Homo sapiens: one gene and its partners. The protein of the gene in region 3 interacts with the protein of the main gene of each other region in a pairwise test. Each region holds a gene or a part of one and is shown on either strand. Other genes may lie near its edges.

Region 1 (4,203 bases), on a different chromosome or scaffold from region 3:
GTAGTAGAGGATGCACGGCCCTCCCCGTAGATACCTGTTGCTGACTCCAAGAGATGAGAGTGCACATGGAGATGTTCTGTCCCCCCTCACTGTCTAAGCCCTCTGACTTCCTTTCTTCCCCCATCAACTGGCAAAAGCTTCTTTTCTGCCTATCTTGGAACCTTTTTCCCATAACTCCTTTGTGCCAACTTCTCTCGTGGTTCTTATCTCCCCACCATCCCACCCTGGGGCCCTTTCAGTGACTCCTAAAGGGACAGCCTGATGGCAAGTGGCTCTTCTCATTGGCCTGGCTTCCCCTTGAGACTGGGGATGAGGAAAATCAAACAGCAACGACCATTTCCTCGGTGTCCTGGGTGTTTGCAGCAGGCCATGTACTAAGGATTCACATAAAAGCAACAATAACGAATCTCATTTAAACTTCACAAATGGAAGTCAAAAAATACCACCTCTATTATACAGATGTGAAAAGAGAGGCCCAAAGACCTCAAGCAACTTGCCCTAAATCATATGCTAATCAATCCCTAATCAATTCTTAGCAGACGGAGAGGCAGGATTCAAATCCAGAATTCTTAACCAGTACCCAACAGTCCATCTACAATCTTAACAATTACCCTCTACTGCCCCTTGGGCTCCCTGTCCCCAGGAGCCTGGCCCGCCGAGACTCACATCCCCAGGTGAGTGGTAACCACCAGAAGTGAATGTGTCAGGGCTACTGCCATTGATTTTCTTTTTCCTGTTAGCTCCTGCTGGAATGCCAGGGCTCTTCCTCTGCCAATATGCTTTTAACTGTGGGAAAGAAGAGCAGTAACACTCATGAGAATGATCAGCCCCTACAGCCACATCCTCCTTTACAGTTTTGACAAAATACCCTTATATACCATCTGATGTAATGCCACCAACAACTGTACAAGGTGTTGTCACAATCACTTAGTGACTGAGAGGGATTGATATCATGGATAGAAAAAAAAAAAAAGAAAGATCAAAAAAGGCAATACTGGAACTTAAACTCAGTCCTCTGACTCCAAGCTCTGGGGTTTTGCCATGAATCAGCAGCTTCCAGGGACCAAAACCAGGGGCAGAGGTAGAAAAGCACACATTAAGCAGGCAGGAACTGTAGGCCGTGTGGTTTAGAGTCATACATCCTCACAGGTCTGCTAGCGTGAAGAAGCGTACCAGTACCTCTCACACTTTCATATCAATGTGTCCTCATGGCAGAAGGCAGCTTTTCTATTAAATCTGGGAATTTATCAGAAAGAGGACAACCCAAGCCTCATTTCAGAGCGAAGTCTGGTATACGCTTGGAAACCTATGTGTCTGTCATCCCTAAGTACATTAATGCATTTTCTCAAGAGAATCAAGGGAAAATGATGCTTCAGAAAGATGTCCCGCATTTATCCTGTGGCACTCAAAGTACCCCAGGTTGAGACGATATGAGGAAGATTCAAGCTGTCAAGTTCAGTTTCCCAAGATCTATTCCACAGAAGATGAGCAAATCTCACTTCAGAGGCCACTGACTGAAGGGCAGTCTGGTCCCAGAACCGTGGAGAACTCAGAAAAAAATGTTAAAGTCTCTCTGGAAAGTAGAAGCCTGGGAAAAAACCAAACCAAACCCATTCTCCCATTGCCACCCAGAGATACTGTGAACATTTTGAGCTCACAGGGGAAGTGTAGGCTTTTCCCACTGTCAATGTCTATGTTAAGGGAGTAAGGCAGCCTGAAACCTCTTGCTCCTAGGTCCCATAGTCTCCACTCCCCTTCCAGCTGGAAATTTGTGCTGCAACCAGAGGAACCAGAAATGGGGTGAGAAAACTTAGGGGACTGGGTTGTAAGATCAAAGGCCGGTCTTGCAGCAGTAATGACAGTTCCTAGGGGCACTGTGACATCATTGCATTCCACTCCTCCCAGGGGAGGGGACCACATCAGCGCGATGCCCGAGTCGCTGCTCCACGATGGGGGAGGGAAACACACGGTTTCGACCCAGGTCCTCAGAGACGCCAGCCCAAGAAGCCTAGGGAGGTCGAGCTTGGGGCAGCAGGAGGGGAGGGCAGAGTCTGCAGTAGGGAGCCCCGGGAGTCACCAGCCCAAAGCCACCCAGGGATGACTGGTGAGGGCAGGGCCTGGGGCTGGGGGACCCAGGTCCTGGGAGACGCAAGCCCAAAGAGCCCAGGGAGGTTGGGCTTGGGGTGGCAGGAGGTGAGGGCTGATTATGGAGCAGGGAGCCCCAGGAGTCACCTGCCCAAAGTCACCCTGGGGTGATTGGCAAGGGCAGGGACTGGGCTGCTTGCTGAAGGGGTGGGGCTGACTGACTAGGCTTTGGTTGGGGGAGCCCAGAGGGGCTGGGGTTGGGGGGCCCCATCTGGTATGCCTCAGGAGTGGTATGGACTCTGGCACCGGTCTTGTCATCGGAGGGGATCTGTGGCTGGGTTGGGGGCCATGACCTGGTGTGTTTTACCTTTTTCTTGGCTGCGGCCAATTTCCCCTGTTGTGTTTTTTCTGACATCGCGGGGTGGGGAGGGAGGCGGGGTTGGGGCCACATCAGCGAAATACCAGTGAGCACTGCTCAATGCCTCCAGTCACCTACCAGGCAGCTGTGCAACTGAGCCACAGGTGGCGTAACCAGGGCACCAATGGAACGCAGAATAGGGGCGTGGCCTTAATGTTCCAAGCCCATTGGTCAGTGAGAAAGATGAAAGGGAAAGGAGGCGTGGCCAGGCGCAGCATGTCCAGAGGGACCTGTAGCATCATAAGGAAAGCTGCCCATGCAACCGCTGTCCCCGCCCACTCAGAGAGAGGGGAGAGGCCGCCCACTCTGGGAGAGGGGAGGGGCTGGCTTTTGCTTTAAAAGCTTTAAAACTGTTAAAAATAAACTTTAAAAAATATATGTGTATATACTTTATATATGTGTGTCTGTGTGTATCTATGTGTTCCTCCAGAGCTGTCTTCATTATGCAGCTTCTATGCAAAGTCTATGATTTTGGCCTATATTTTTCATCTTCAAATGGAGCACAAGAATTACAAGTATTACCTTAACTGAGATATAGACCCTATAAAAATGGAAAATCCATAGCATTCTTGATGATTAATGAAGCTGACTATAGTATCCGACATTCCAATAACAGAGAATAATCACAACAATTTCTCTTTTTTGGAAAAATGTTTGTCTTATTCTCCTACATTATTGTTAAGATTTCTTTTAAAAACAAGAAACATGTCTAATATCTTTAAAAACACAAAGCTTTTGGGCCAGGTGCGGTGGCTCACCCCTGTAATGCCATCACTTTGGGAGGCCGAGGTGGGTGGATGACCTGAGGTCAGGAGTTCGAGACCAGCCTGGCCAACATGAAGAAACCCTGTCTCTACTAAAAATACAAAAACTAACCAGGTGTGGTGGTGGGTGCTTGTAATCCCAGCTATTTGGGAGGCTGAGGCAGGAGAATCACTTGAACCCAGGAGATGGAGGTTGCAGTGAGCCAAGCTCATGCCACTGCACTCCAGCCTGGGTGACAGAGCAAGACTCCATCTCAAAAGAAATAAAATAAAATAAAATAAGATACAAAATAAGTAGGAACACAAAACTTACAATTTAATAAGCACTTAAAGCTCTTTACTGGTTTAAAACAAATACAAGGCCCATTTTTCTAGAATCACCAGGCCACTCTAGGCCTTGCAAATGAAACTGAATTTCTCACTTGATACCTGGCTATGACTTGCAATCATGAAAACCAAGAATTGTGTTATGTCACTGTGTACTGCTTGTTACCTGAAATCCACACTAGGCTGGGATCAAGGGTTGAATCTTTCATGATTTTTCTCCATAACCTGTGTGCTTCTTATCCCAGACTGAACTAAGCTTTTTTCTAGAGTTCTACAATTTACACTTAATAGACAAGAGTGGTTCTCAAAATGTAGTCTATGGACTAGCAGCACCAGCAGCACCTGAGACCTTTTTATAAGTGCAAATTCTCAGGCCCCACCCTGGACCTGGTGAATCAGAAACTCTGGAGTAGGGTTCAGCAATCTGTGCTGCAGTAATCCCTCCAAGTGTTCAAGAACCTCTGGCATACAGCAGGTAGAAAAATGTGTTTCCTTCTGTAGGTCCAAAGCCAGGGTTACCATATGTTCTGCCTTGTTATGAAACAATGACATGCAATTAAAAGACAAGAATCTCCTTCCTACTCGCACCCTCCATCCAATGTGTTTTAT
Region 2 (4,297 bases), about 65 Mb from region 3:
CTCACCTCCCGCTGCCGCAGGCCCGCGCGTTCCAGGTCCTGCTCGCGGCTCTGCAGCTCCAGCTCCAGACGGCTTCTCCGCTCCCCGCGGGCGAAGTTCTGGGACGCACGGAGGACCACTGAGCCTCCGCCGGCCGCTCGGCCATGCAAAAGAGGTACACGGAGGGCCAGGGGCTGGGAGTGGGCCCGGGCGGAGCGGGGTCGGGTGGAGAAGACCGGACGGGGGTGATACGTGAGGCCCAGTGGGATCTCCTCGGGCTGAGGGCAGCCTGGACCCGCGGAGGTGGGGCCGTCGGGGAGGGATTAATTCAGAGAAGGCGGAGCCAGGGAGGCCAGCGAGGTGGGATTGGGCCTGGCGGGAGGGGCGGGGCCCGAGGCCCACCTGACTCGGCGGGCGCCGGCTCTGCTCCCGAAGCTGCTCCGTCTCCTCGTACAGAGCGCGCACCTCCCTCTCGTGCTCGCTCTCGCGCCTTCGGGGGACCGGGCGACCCCGGATGAGAACTTGCCAGCGCTACAGCCCCCTGGCACCGCCTCTGCTGCTGCCCTGAGGCCCTCCATTGGCCCCCATACCCCACCCCGGCCCTCACCTCCGCAGCGCCTGCTCCAGGCCGTCGCGCTCCCGGGCCGCCTCCTCCAGGCAGGCCGACGCGCGTATCAGAACATCCTCGAAAGAGCCCAGCAGCTCGGGGCGCTCGCGCTGCAGCCTGGCCCAGAGCGTCCTCACAGCCCGCTGCCTGGAGGGCGGGCGGGAACTGAGGCTGGAGCTGGCAGAAGCGGGAAGCAGGCTTCCCTCCGCCAGCAGCAAACCCTTAGGAGACTTCTTCGCCCCTGGGCAGGACAGGAGCACTTGCTGCGTGCAGGGCATCCCTCCCGTGAGCGCTTTCGCCCCTGCCCGGCGTGCGTGGTCGGTGAGGTGTGTGTACCCTGGGCAGTGCCGGTATGTGGCCCCGCGCCCGGCGCTGCCCCTCCTCCCTGCAGCCCTGGCTGCTGCCTCATGAAATGCAAATTCTGCGGGAAATCATGCCGGGTCCCTCCCAGGGAATCGCAGCTGACGCTAGGCTGGGCCTGACCCGGCCTAGAGACCCTGTGCAGAACCAGCACTCGGGTGACAAGGGCAGACAGCATGCAGGCAGAGAAACAGCAGAGCGGGCAGTGGGAGCGGGGCCAGCGCCGACTCACTTGCCCAGGACCGGGGCCACCCCCAGCTGCTCCAGCACAGTGTGGAATCGCTCCTCCTCTTCCTCCTCCTCATCCAGAGAGCCCGCCGTGCCCTGCACGTCGAGCCCGCCCGACTCAAAGGTCTCCTCGGGAGTCCTGCAGGGGTTCGCTCCCTGGGCTGACGCCACCCCCACAAACATCCCTGCGGGCATGGAGCGAGCGATTACCAGGGCTGTGGGTCGCCACCGTGGCTGTGTCCCCGTTCACCCTCCCAACGAGTATCCTGCCCTCTCTCAGGGCCCAGTTTCCTGTTTTCCTTCCTTATTCTGGTCCTATTGGCCTGGAAACAAGAGGTGACAGGCCAGCTCCCAGCCCTACCGGAGCTTAGCACAGGAGAGGAGCTGGGGGCCAGGAAGGTCAGCTCCACACACTCCACCGCAGCTAGGAGCCCCCAGGCGCGAGTGCGTGCAGACAAAGCACGGGCCCTGGAGGGAGGAGGACGAGAGGCACCGGCAGCCCTCAGGGCGCCACAAGTGCCAGGCCTCCTGATCAGGCCTCCAGCTCTGGGCAGTGGGGGATAGGCAGGCCACAGGCTCACCCAGGCCCAGGCAGAACTCCCTGGCGGTGAGGAAGCCAGTGTGAGCCCGGTCCAGACTTTCAAACACAGCCTCCAGCTGCTCTGGCGTGAGGGGCAGGTCGCTCTGGAGACCCTGGTCGGGGAAGGAGAGCAGAGATGAGCCGCTGCGGTCAACCCAGGGCCGAAGCAGTCTCTTGGGGTGGGGGACTCACCTGCAGGTCGTGCTTGGTGATGAAGCCCTTAGCCTCCTTGTCACACAGCAGAAACAGCTCCTCAGCCTGCTCCAGTATTGCAGCCCGCGGCCCTGCAGAGCCCCCCTCGAGTTCCCCCTCCTCCTCCTGGGCCTCATCAGCCCCAGGCTTTCCAGGGCTGGCCATGAGAGCAGGGGGCCTCAGCCTGGCCTTCAGGTGCTGTGAAGCCAAGGGAGGGTCAGAAGAAATTCAGGAGGGGAGCGGATGGGGTGCAAGTGTGTCTGAAGGCTCAGCCGAGGGCCCTCCCTGCAGCAGGTGGGAAGGTGGGCGGAAGGCAAGGTGGGACCAGGGGGCTGGGGGTGGAAAATGCTGCAGGCTTGGGGTGTCACTGGGGTGGTTGATGTAGGCTCAGGGCCTGTGGGTACTGCCCCAGTGGGTCTGGCATCTCAGGAGGCTGGAACCCAGGAGGGGCTGCCAACTTCAGGAGAGGAGGAGCTGGAGGTGATGGCAATCTCAGGGGCCAGTGGAGAAGACCTGGTGATAAGGAAGGTGGGGTCCTGAAAGCTGAGAGGAGCAGGCTTGGGGTCAGTGAGGGAGGAGCCCCTCACACTCTGCAACTGGAGATCTGATCCCAAGTGAGGGCTCAGCCAGTCCTGACCAAGTCCTTAGCCCCTGGCCTGGGCCTGTGTGGCCCAGCCTCATGACAGCTGGCAGGCAGGGCAGACTTCTCCCTCCTGCCCACCGGCCCCTCCCTCCCCACAACTGAGCCCACAGAGTGCAGGGGCAAGGTCCCAGCCTGCAGAGCCCTTCGCCTCTGACGCCCCACTCAGGAACACTTCCAGATTCGAGACCTAACACCCTTGCCCCACAACACTGAGGCCCTTCCCCGTTTCAGAACTCCCTGGGGCCTCCCTTCCCACCTCCTTGCAGGGACGCCCCGCCCCCTAACCAGAGCCACCTGTCCTTCACACAATGTCCTGATCCCGGATTTCCCAAAGCTGCTCCCCACCAACACCCGCCTTCCCCCACCGGGGAGCTGGGATCCTCTCCCCTCACTCTCCACCCAGCGTCCTTCCATGTTCCTTAGCCCGGGCGACCTCCAAAGAGGGCAAGTCTGGGCGGGTGAGAGAAGGGGACACGAGAGGCCAGGGCCATTGCCTCCAGGCCACGTTGTTGTCTCGCCCGCCCTCCGGCTTGCCGGCTAGACCTGAGGTCCACCCCAGCCGGAAGCCGCGCGGCAGCAGGGCCCCAGGGAGGTGGGAGGATGGGCTGGTGGGGTGGGGCGGCCAGCCTCCTGTGCTCCCCGAAACTCTGGGGGACAACCCCGCCCTTACCCCTGCCGCCTTGCGCCCCGAGGGGGTAACCGGAGTTCCCGACCGAGACGCTCAGGTTTGGCGCGGGCCACGGCGGCCCGGAGGGGGTGCCGGGCGGGCGGCAGTGGAGGGGCCTCAGCGGCGGGACCAGCGGTCGCCTACCCGCGAGTTGCGCCGCCGCACCTGCCGCGCGCCCGGGCCGCTCCTCCCGGAAACACTGGGCGCGCCCCGCCCCAGCTGGGACCCGGACGGGACGTAGAGGGCACTGGGCCCCGAGCGACCCCTGCCGCTTCGCAGGCACCGAGACCCCCGCTTGGGCCGGCCCCGGGAGGAGCCACTCTGCGCCGCTGTCGCCTGTCCCCGCCTCTCTGCGCTGCCCCGGCGGCCCGATCCCTGGAGGCTCGAGCGAGCAGTGAAGCAACGATATGCCCCAGAGACCCAGGGACCCCCCGGAGCAGGGACAAGGCTGCGGGGGGCGGGCGCAGACACCAGCGCCTGGGAGGGGCCCCTCCTGTCCGGGGGGAGCCCGACTTAAGGCGCCAAAAAGTGTGTGTAGGAAAAAGCCGGGCAGGAAACAGACCAAATACTTTCAGCGGTTATCTCTAGGGGTGGGGAGCCTTTACTTTCTTCTCTATACTTTCCCGGTTTTTAAACAATAAACATGTAGGCCGGGCGCCTGTAATCCCAGCACTTTGGGGGGCTGAGACAGGGGCAGATCACCTGAGGTCAGGAGTTCGAGACCAGCCTGCCCAACATGGCGAAACCCCGTCTCTACTAAAAATACAAAAAATTAGCCAGGTGTGGTGGTGGGCGCCTGTAATCCCAGCACTTTGGGAGGCTGAGCCAGGAGAATCACTTGAACTCGGGAGGCAGAGTTTGCAGTGAGCCGAGATTGTGCCATTGCACTGGGCAACAAGAACGAAACTCCATCTCAAAACAAAACAATGAACGTGTAATGCTAGAAAATGTTTAACTTAGCAGTATTCAGTGTATATGTATGGGTGAACGAGCTGGGGACTCAGGCAGGTCCCACCTCAGTAGCCCCTCCTGGCTCTCCTT
Region 3 (4,174 bases):
ATGATCCAAAAGTTTGGTGAATGGATAAATAAAGAAATGAATGAGAGTTCAAATGCCTAAGCATCTCTTGGAGAAGTGGCTCCATCTCTACTTCTCATTCTGGGCTCCCACTCCCTTCTCTTCCCTCTTACCTGGTGGCTTCCTGTCGTTTGTGGAAGGTGCGATTAGGGAGGTTGGCAGACACGAAAGTTTCATCGTATCCCGAGGCATAGGCCTTTCCATTCCGCTTGGAGGCCTGGAAGGCAGCCCTCAAAGTCTTCCAGGGCAGCTTTTGGGGGCCTGCCCACAGTGGGACCAAGTCAGGGGCTGCCCTCTCCCTCTCAGCCCACCAGGCAACGCCCCCCAGCACCCAGAGCACAGCCCAGCCTGCCTGAGCCCCTGCCTCCCTGACTGCTCCCTGTTCCCTGCGGTGTAGCTTCGGGGGAATCCAGGCTCTGAGCCCCACGCTCACCACAGTCCAGGTCTCTCTGTAGCTGCCTGTGCAGCTTCTCCAGGTCCCATGGCCCCTGCAGCTCCTTGGCCCTTGTCTTCCTCCATTGTCGCCTTCGGAGGTTGTTGAAGCTGGGGCTGCTCCCCTGGCTCTGGCCCTGCACTTCTCCCTCATCGGAGGCTTCCTCTCCAGAAATCTGCCCCTTTCTCTGACAACCAGCCCTCCTTCTGCAGGGAGTCCTGTGCTCTCCCTCCTCAGCCTCCTCTGTGGCCTCTGAAAATTGCTCCTCCTCTGAGATCGACCCCCTCCTGGGGCGCTGGGGCAGCACCCCAGAACTCAGACCCCTCTCGGCCTCCTCAGCACCCAGGCTTTGCAGCTGGACCTGCTTGTCGGACGCCGATCCTGATCCTGGCCTCCTCCCAGGCAGCTGGAGACCACTGGGGGGCTCTGATCCTAGCTCCCCTTTGCCAGTAGGGATGGAGACACCGCCCCAGGCTCCCAGCTGCTGTCTCGCCTTCAGGTTTTGCGCCTCTGTCTTCCAGCAGCAGCCATGGGCCTCTGGGAGGTTGGCCGTGGACTTGCGCCTGGACTGACGCTGGGAGAACGAGGAGGGCATGGGCAGGGCTTGGTGGCCAGGGGTTGGGGAGCTTGGCTGAAGCACAGCCCGGACATCTGTGGCGATGCTCTCCCAGGCCCACTGGAAGGGGAAGGAGGGTTTCCGAGGAAGAAGCGGGAAGTGACTGAAGAAGGAAAGGGTGGGGGTCAGGGTCGGCGCCAGCCCCCAGAGGGCCCTGACCCCCAACAGCCTCCTGACCCATCCCACTGCTGCTTACTCTTCAGACTCTTCAGAGCCCTGTCCTTTCTTGCTCTGGCCCCTGGGCTTGCGGTCCTTCTTTGCTGTCTGCCTTGAGCTCTGAGACCTCTGCTGCAGGTCTTGATTTGGCACACCATCACCACTCCCCAGGCAGCCCTGGGCAGAGACAGTAGGGGAGGAGCAGCCAGCTTGAGCAGCCTCCTGGACTGTGTTGCACCTCACCCGGGTGCTCCCTCTGTGCACCTGGCTGGGCCTGGCTGGGTCCCTCTGGGCCCTCGTTACCATAAAAACCAACCAAACAGGGCTGGATGTGGTGCTCACACCTGTAACCCCAGCACTTTGGGAGGCCAAGGGGGGCGGATCACCTGAGGCCAGGAGTTCGAGACCAGCCTGGCCAACATGGCGAAACCCCATCTGTACTAAAAATACAAAAAAAATTAGCCGAGTGTGGTGGCCTGCGCCTGTAATCCTAGCTACTTGGGAGGCTGAGGCAGGACAATCGCTTGAACCTAGGAGTTGGAGGCTGCAGTGAGCCGAGATTGTGTCATTGCACTCCAGCCTGGGCAACAAGAGTGAAACTCCATCTCAAAAAAACAAACAAACAAAAAAACCCGACCGAGCACCACCTCCGTTCTGCATATTAAAATAGCAACAGCTGCCACCTGCTGAGCACCTATTGTGTGCTCAGGACTTTCATGCATAAACACACGTAACCTTCCCAAGGACCCTAGGAGGCCGGTACTCACTATCACCTCCATCATGTGGAGGAGAAAGCTGAGGCTCAGAGAGGCTGAGTAACTGAGGTCACACAGCTGGGAAGTGGTGGAGCCCAGATTTGTCACCATTGCGCTAGGCCACCTCTGGGCCCTGGACTGCACTCCCAAATGTCCCACTGGGCCCTGGACCTGCTACAGCCAAGGCAGAAACCAAGGTGGTCTTCATCAAGGTGGTCTTCATCTTTCCTGAAACCTGCTCCTTCCGCAGTGTTCCCTGAATGGCCCCATCATCCCTGGGAGTCACTCCTGGGCGTCATCCCTCGGCTTCTCCCAAGGCCCTTAGGCCTCCCTGTGGTCCCTGTCCCACTCCTGCCTCCCTGAGTTTCATCTGGACCTCAGCTCAGGTCTTGTGGCTTCTCAAGGGCCTCCCCAGCCCAGGCCTCCCTGACCCACCTGGCTCTAGGCAGCTGGAAGTGTCCTCACTGGGCCTCCCTCACCTGCTTGTCCTGAGAGACGGTCGACAGCAGCTTGAGCAGCCCCGTTCTGGTTCCTGGAGCCTGGAGCCGCACGTCCTGCCCTGGTCGCACCGACGGGGTCCTAACCAACTGTTGGTAGGTATTTAGCATATCGGTGTCCTGCCCCATCCTGCCCCATCCCCCATCCGCACCGTAGAACTGCCTAACAGGCCATCTCTATGGCAACCAGTCCTCAGCCAGTCTCAATGGGTCTGGCAAAAAGCATGCTAGGAAGGGGTCAGTGGGGTATGTGAGGCCAATCTCCTTCTGGGAGAGAGTTCAGCAGGATGCCCAGGAGTCATTTAGCGCAGAGACCCAGGCCCAAGTCCTGCCTCTGCCTCATCCACAGGCTCCCCGTGTGACCTGGTGTAAGTCCCCTGTCCCTACTCTGCCTGTGTTTCCCCATCCATCTGTACAGGGGAGTCAGCCTGTCTCCTGTGCTGCCCCCCGGCCTGGCCGAGTCCCTGAAGGAGCCAAACTGAACTTTCACAAGATTTTATTTAAATCCTTGCACTCCCAGGCTGGGAGTGGTGGCTCACACCTGTAATCCCAGCACTTTGGGGGGCTGAGGCAGGTGGATCACTGGAGGTCAAGAGTTCAAGACCAGCCTGGCCAAAATGGCAAAACCCCATCTCTACCAAAAATGCAAAAAAGATTAGCCAGGCCTGGTGGCGCATGCCTGTAATCCCAGCTACTCAGGCTGAGGCACGAGAATCACTTGAACCCGGGAGGCAGAGGCTGCATCGACCCCAGATTGCACCACTGCACTCCAGCCAGGGCGACAGAGTGAGACTCTGTCTCAATAAAAAAGAAACAAATAAACAAATCTTTGCACTCCCAGCCCCAGCCAGGAAGTTGAATGCTGTGTCCAGGAGAGAGGCAGCAGGCCATTCAGAGCCTGGGCCCAGGCCCACCTGGCCATCTTCATAGGCCATGAGGTTCTGGAGGGAGTTACAACATTGAAAGCTTACCCCAGGCCGGGCAGTGGCTGTAATTCCAGCACTTTGGGAGGCCGAGGTGGGCGGATTGCCTGAGGTCAGGAGTTGGAGACCAGCCTGGCCAACATGGTGAAACCCCATCTCCCACCTGGATTGAAACTCTATCTCTACTAAAAATACAAAAATTAGCCGGGCATGGTGGTGGGCACCTGTAATCCCAGCTACTCGGGAGGCTGAGGCTCTCCCTCTCCGGGTTCTCTTGAACCCGGGAGGTGGAGGTTGCAGTGAGCCGAGGCCACACCAGTGTACTCCAGCCTGGGCGAAAGAGTGAGACTCCATCTCAAAAAAATATATTTTTTTAATATAAAAAAAGTAAAAGATCTTACCCCAAACTTCTAGCAGTGCTCAAAAGCCTTGGAATCTTAAGTCCCCATGGGACGCCTGGTGCTGACCACTGAGGCTTGCAGTACAGGGATGTGGTGCTGAGCTGAGGCCCTGGAGACGGACCAACTGGGCTGGAGGCCTGGTCTCACTAGCTCTGTGACCAACTCCCCACTCTGCAAAACTGGAATCACGGGCCCAGCTCATAGGTTTGTTGCAAGGACTACATGAAACCCCAAACGATGACATCGGTAAATGTTATTATTACTAACACTAGCTGGCCGTTCTTTTGAGGCAGCAGAGCATCATGGCTAAGAGCATAGAGGAAGCGCTTGGGTGCAAATCCCAGCTCCTCCACTTGTCCCGTACCCTCTCGGTGC
Region 4 (3,500 bases), on a different chromosome or scaffold from region 3:
CCCGGGAGGCAGAGGTTACAGTGAGCCGAGATAGTACCACTGCACTCCAGCCTGGGCAACAGAGCAAGACCACCTCAAAAAAAAAAAAAAAAAAAAAAAAAGCTGACATGGTAGGTATCTATGGAATGGGTCACAAATTTGAGTATGCATTATAATCACCTGGAGATCATCCTAGGCCTACCGAATCAGAAACTCTAGGTGCCCAGGCATCTGTAATCTTTGAAGCTCTCCAGAAGATTCTGTCACCTCTTGCAGACCGAGGACCACTGAGCTACCATCATCTCTTTGTTCCTTTGTTTTCTCTTACACAAAACTTTATTGCTCAATGAAAAAAGGCTTAAGCAATACCCCCTTCCTTCCTTATTGGATCTGGTTTTCAGTACAGATTATATGCATGCCTGAAAAGAAAATTAGAAAGCAGAAGCAGATTTTTGGTAGTTGGTTGTCAATTTTCTTTTGAATTCTTCACCTCCATGCAAATTGAAGCAGGACTTATTTTTAGCAACTTGATGAATGCAATTTACCAAAGTTTATTACATTATCTTTTATTACAATAAGACAGGAAGGTCAGTGGAATTGTCTGATTTTTCTTTCTCATTTACCATAGTTCTCTTTCTAGGAACTCATAGTACAGAATCAAGCTATGGGATATATAGGTTATTTTGATTCTCTATTTGTGCCCACTTCTATATTTTTGTATAACTTCAGTAGTGTATACACTTTTAACCTTTTTGGAGACATTCTTAGGAATAGCAGTCTCTTCGTTGACTTTCTGTTGTAGTTTTCCTAATGTTTGCTCCCTGGTGACCAGGAGACCTTCTATGTCAGTGGAGACAACTCATCCAAGGCTGGCTGAGCCAAGAGAGGTGGGCAGGAAGGCCAGGTGAAGGCCCCCTTCCCTCCTTTACCACACCTCAATAGAGAATCTTTATGTCTCCTGTACCCTTTCTTTTTCTCTTATTAGCACATTATGGACTTGCGCCTTCACATGAGCTTGGGCCCTTACCTGATTTATAATTTGCTATCTATGACTTTATGGTTGTTCAATCTTGAGAAGGAATGACTGTCCCTGGACATCTTCCAAAACCATTTTCTATATGATTGAATTGTACTTGACTCTTCTTATTGTGATGAGATGATTTCCCCCAATAGCTTTTTAATGGCTGTAGGAGAGCAATACAGAGCACAGGACCTGTCTAGGATAAGCAGGATACATACAAATGATCCCTAGTGTCCCAGGGCGTGGTACAGTCCCTTATCTACCCATTTCCTTCCATTGAAGTGCCTTGTAAGGCTTGGCCAACATGTAAGGAAGGAAGGCATCTCTCACCTATTCTTGCCTTGTTCATCAAAATGCATCCATTCCATCTCATCCACTTGTTGCATGGTAGACTATATTGGGTACTAACTTAAGCAGATGGGTACAGCTCAACTCTACGCAAACTAGCTAATGTGCTTTCCCCAGGTAGCATAAAATGTTAACTTGATTGCCATGCATAGACTTTTAAAAGTTGCTAAGGAGTTAGTCCTTTAAACGAATAGTATTTATTGTTTTATGGGGGTTTTTAAATTATGAAATGTGTGTGGACATTATAAAAATTTTGGAAAATACAGAAAAGCAAAAGGAAGCAATTTAAACCATGTATAATTCCACAACTCAAAGAAAACTATAATTAACACTTTGATGTGTATTACTCAAGTTTCTGTTTCAGAATGCTGCACATTCTCTTTCTCCATAACTACTTTTTATGCCTAACAGAGTATATATGCTTTTCATGCCATTAGATAGCCTTCTAAACTCTGTGACTTATGTAGAAGCCAGGACCTCATTATTGTGCATTTAACTTATTTCTGAATTTCTGCAAAAACAAGGTGGTGATGAAAATATTTTGAGCAATGAGTTTCATACACTTTTGCATTATATCTTTAGAATAAATGCACATATGTCAAAACAAATGCACACTTGAAAAGCTTTTGATACATATTACTAAACTGACTTCCAGAAAGATTCTATCAATTACCAATTTTTTAAAATAATGAATAGACTTTGTTTGCAAAATCATTAAGTTGCAAAAACAAAGACACCACAGGAGTTTTAAATTAGACTTTTTTTTAATCTAGAAAAAAAATTTAATGTACTTGCTTAGTTCAGCAGAAGCTGAGAGAGGTCTCAAGACCCTGAACAATAATACTGATTTTATTATTTTATCTTATTTTATGTTTTTAAGTTCCGGGGTACACGTGCAAGATGCGCAGGTTTGTTACAGAGGTAAACATGTGCCATGGTGGTTTGCTGCACAGATCATCCCATCACCTAGGTTTTAAGCTCAGCATGCATCAGCTCTTTTCCCTAATGCTCTCCCCTCCCCCGCACTTCCCCGACAGGCCCCACTGTGCATTATTCCCCTCCCTGTGTCCAGGTGTTCTCATTGTTCACCTCCCACTTATAAGTGAGAACATGCAGTGTTTGGTTTTCTGTTCCTGCATTAGTTTGCTGAGGATAATGGCTTCCAGCTTCATCCATGTCCCTGCAAAGAACATGATCTCATTCCTCTTTATGGCTGTATAGTACAGTCTAACATTGATGGGCATTTGGGTTGGTTCCGTGTCTTTGCTATTGTGAATAGGGCTGCAGTGAACATTGACATGCATGTGTCTTTATAATAGAATGATTTATATTCCTTTGGGTATATACCCAGTAATGGGATCGCTGGCTCAAATGGTGTTTCCAGTTCTAAATCTTTGAGGAATTGCCACACTGTCTTCCACAATGGTTGAACTAATTCACATTCCCACCAACAGTGTAAAAGCATTCCTATTTCTTCACAACCACCATCAGCATCTGTTGTTTCTTGACATTTTAATAGTCACCATTCTGACTGGCATGAGATGGAATTACCAGTATGTTTTGAGAGTTCCCAGAATCCTTACCCATTTGAAAAAGTATTGTTTTTAAAAAATTCCTGCTAACTTTATGGGCAAGAAAATTCTCAGCAGTTTAATTTGCATTTCCTTGTTTAATACAGAAGTCTTTTGTGACTATATTTTTATACTTTTGCTAAAGATTATTTAGTGCATTGGTTAAGTGGTGCTATTCTAACGCCTGAGTGTTCACTTACTGATGACCTTGAGTAAATTCCTTGATCTCCCTATGCTCACACCAACTCTGATAATGGCAGTACCTACTCATAGAATCTGTATGAAGACTAAAGAGGGTATCACATGAAAGATGCCTAGAAAATATCAGGCATATATAACATACGTTTATGTTCTCTGTCATTTACATCTTCTCTGAATTGCTTCACTGTCTTTGGGTAAGTAGATTTTTTGGTAGCTTAGAAATATATATATTAAGTATCTTAACCTCTTGTCTGTCATATATTATAATTTCTCCCCAGTTGGTGGTTTGTCTTTCAATTTTGTTCAAAGTGAGGAAACAGTTGAATATCAAGAAATTCAGACCAGGTGAAGGCATAGTTTTGGTCCAGGGTGGATCTTTT

The links.
Region 1: the proteins of TSGA10IP (region 3) and GOLGA6L9 interact in binary tests that used the Homo sapiens proteins (3 or more experiments, as listed by UniProt).
Region 2: the proteins of TSGA10IP (region 3) and CRACR2B interact in binary tests that used the Homo sapiens proteins (3 or more experiments, as listed by UniProt).
Region 4: the proteins of TSGA10IP (region 3) and STX11 interact in binary tests that used the Homo sapiens proteins (3 or more experiments, as listed by UniProt).

What each region holds. Positions count from the first base shown.
Region 1 is NC_000015.10:82,428,413-82,432,615, reverse strand, and holds the start of GOLGA6L9 (golgin subfamily A member 6-like protein 9), read right to left. Parts: upstream 2,801-4,203; 5' UTR 2,537-2,800; coding exon 2,453-2,536; intron 1,834-2,452; exon of another isoform or gene 1,722-1,833; intron 787-1,721; coding exon 667-786; exon of another isoform or gene 45-666; coding exon 1-44.
Region 2 is NC_000011.10:826,422-830,718, reverse strand, and holds the start of CRACR2B (EF-hand calcium-binding domain-containing protein 4A), read right to left. Parts: upstream 2,801-4,297; 5' UTR 2,112-2,800; coding exon 1,947-2,111; intron 1,868-1,946; coding exon 1,756-1,867; coding exon of another isoform or gene 1,536-1,755; intron 1,360-1,535; coding exon 1,179-1,359; intron 752-1,178; coding exon of another isoform or gene 734-751; coding exon 587-733; intron 470-586; coding exon 382-469; coding exon of another isoform or gene 99-381; coding exon 6-98; intron 1-5. UniProt on the Homo sapiens protein: Plays a role in store-operated Ca(2+) entry (SOCE).
Region 3 is NC_000011.10:65,944,106-65,948,279, reverse strand, and holds the start of TSGA10IP (testis-specific protein 10-interacting protein), read right to left. Parts: upstream 2,801-4,174; 5' UTR 2,605-2,800; coding exon 2,458-2,604; exon of another isoform or gene 2,414-2,457; intron 1,401-2,413; coding exon 1,264-1,400; intron 1,171-1,263; coding exon 452-1,170; intron 280-451; coding exon 132-279; intron 1-131.
Region 4 is NC_000006.12:144,181,517-144,185,016, forward strand, and holds part of STX11 (syntaxin-11), read left to right. Parts: intron 1-3,500. UniProt on the Homo sapiens protein: SNARE that acts to regulate protein transport between late endosomes and the trans-Golgi network.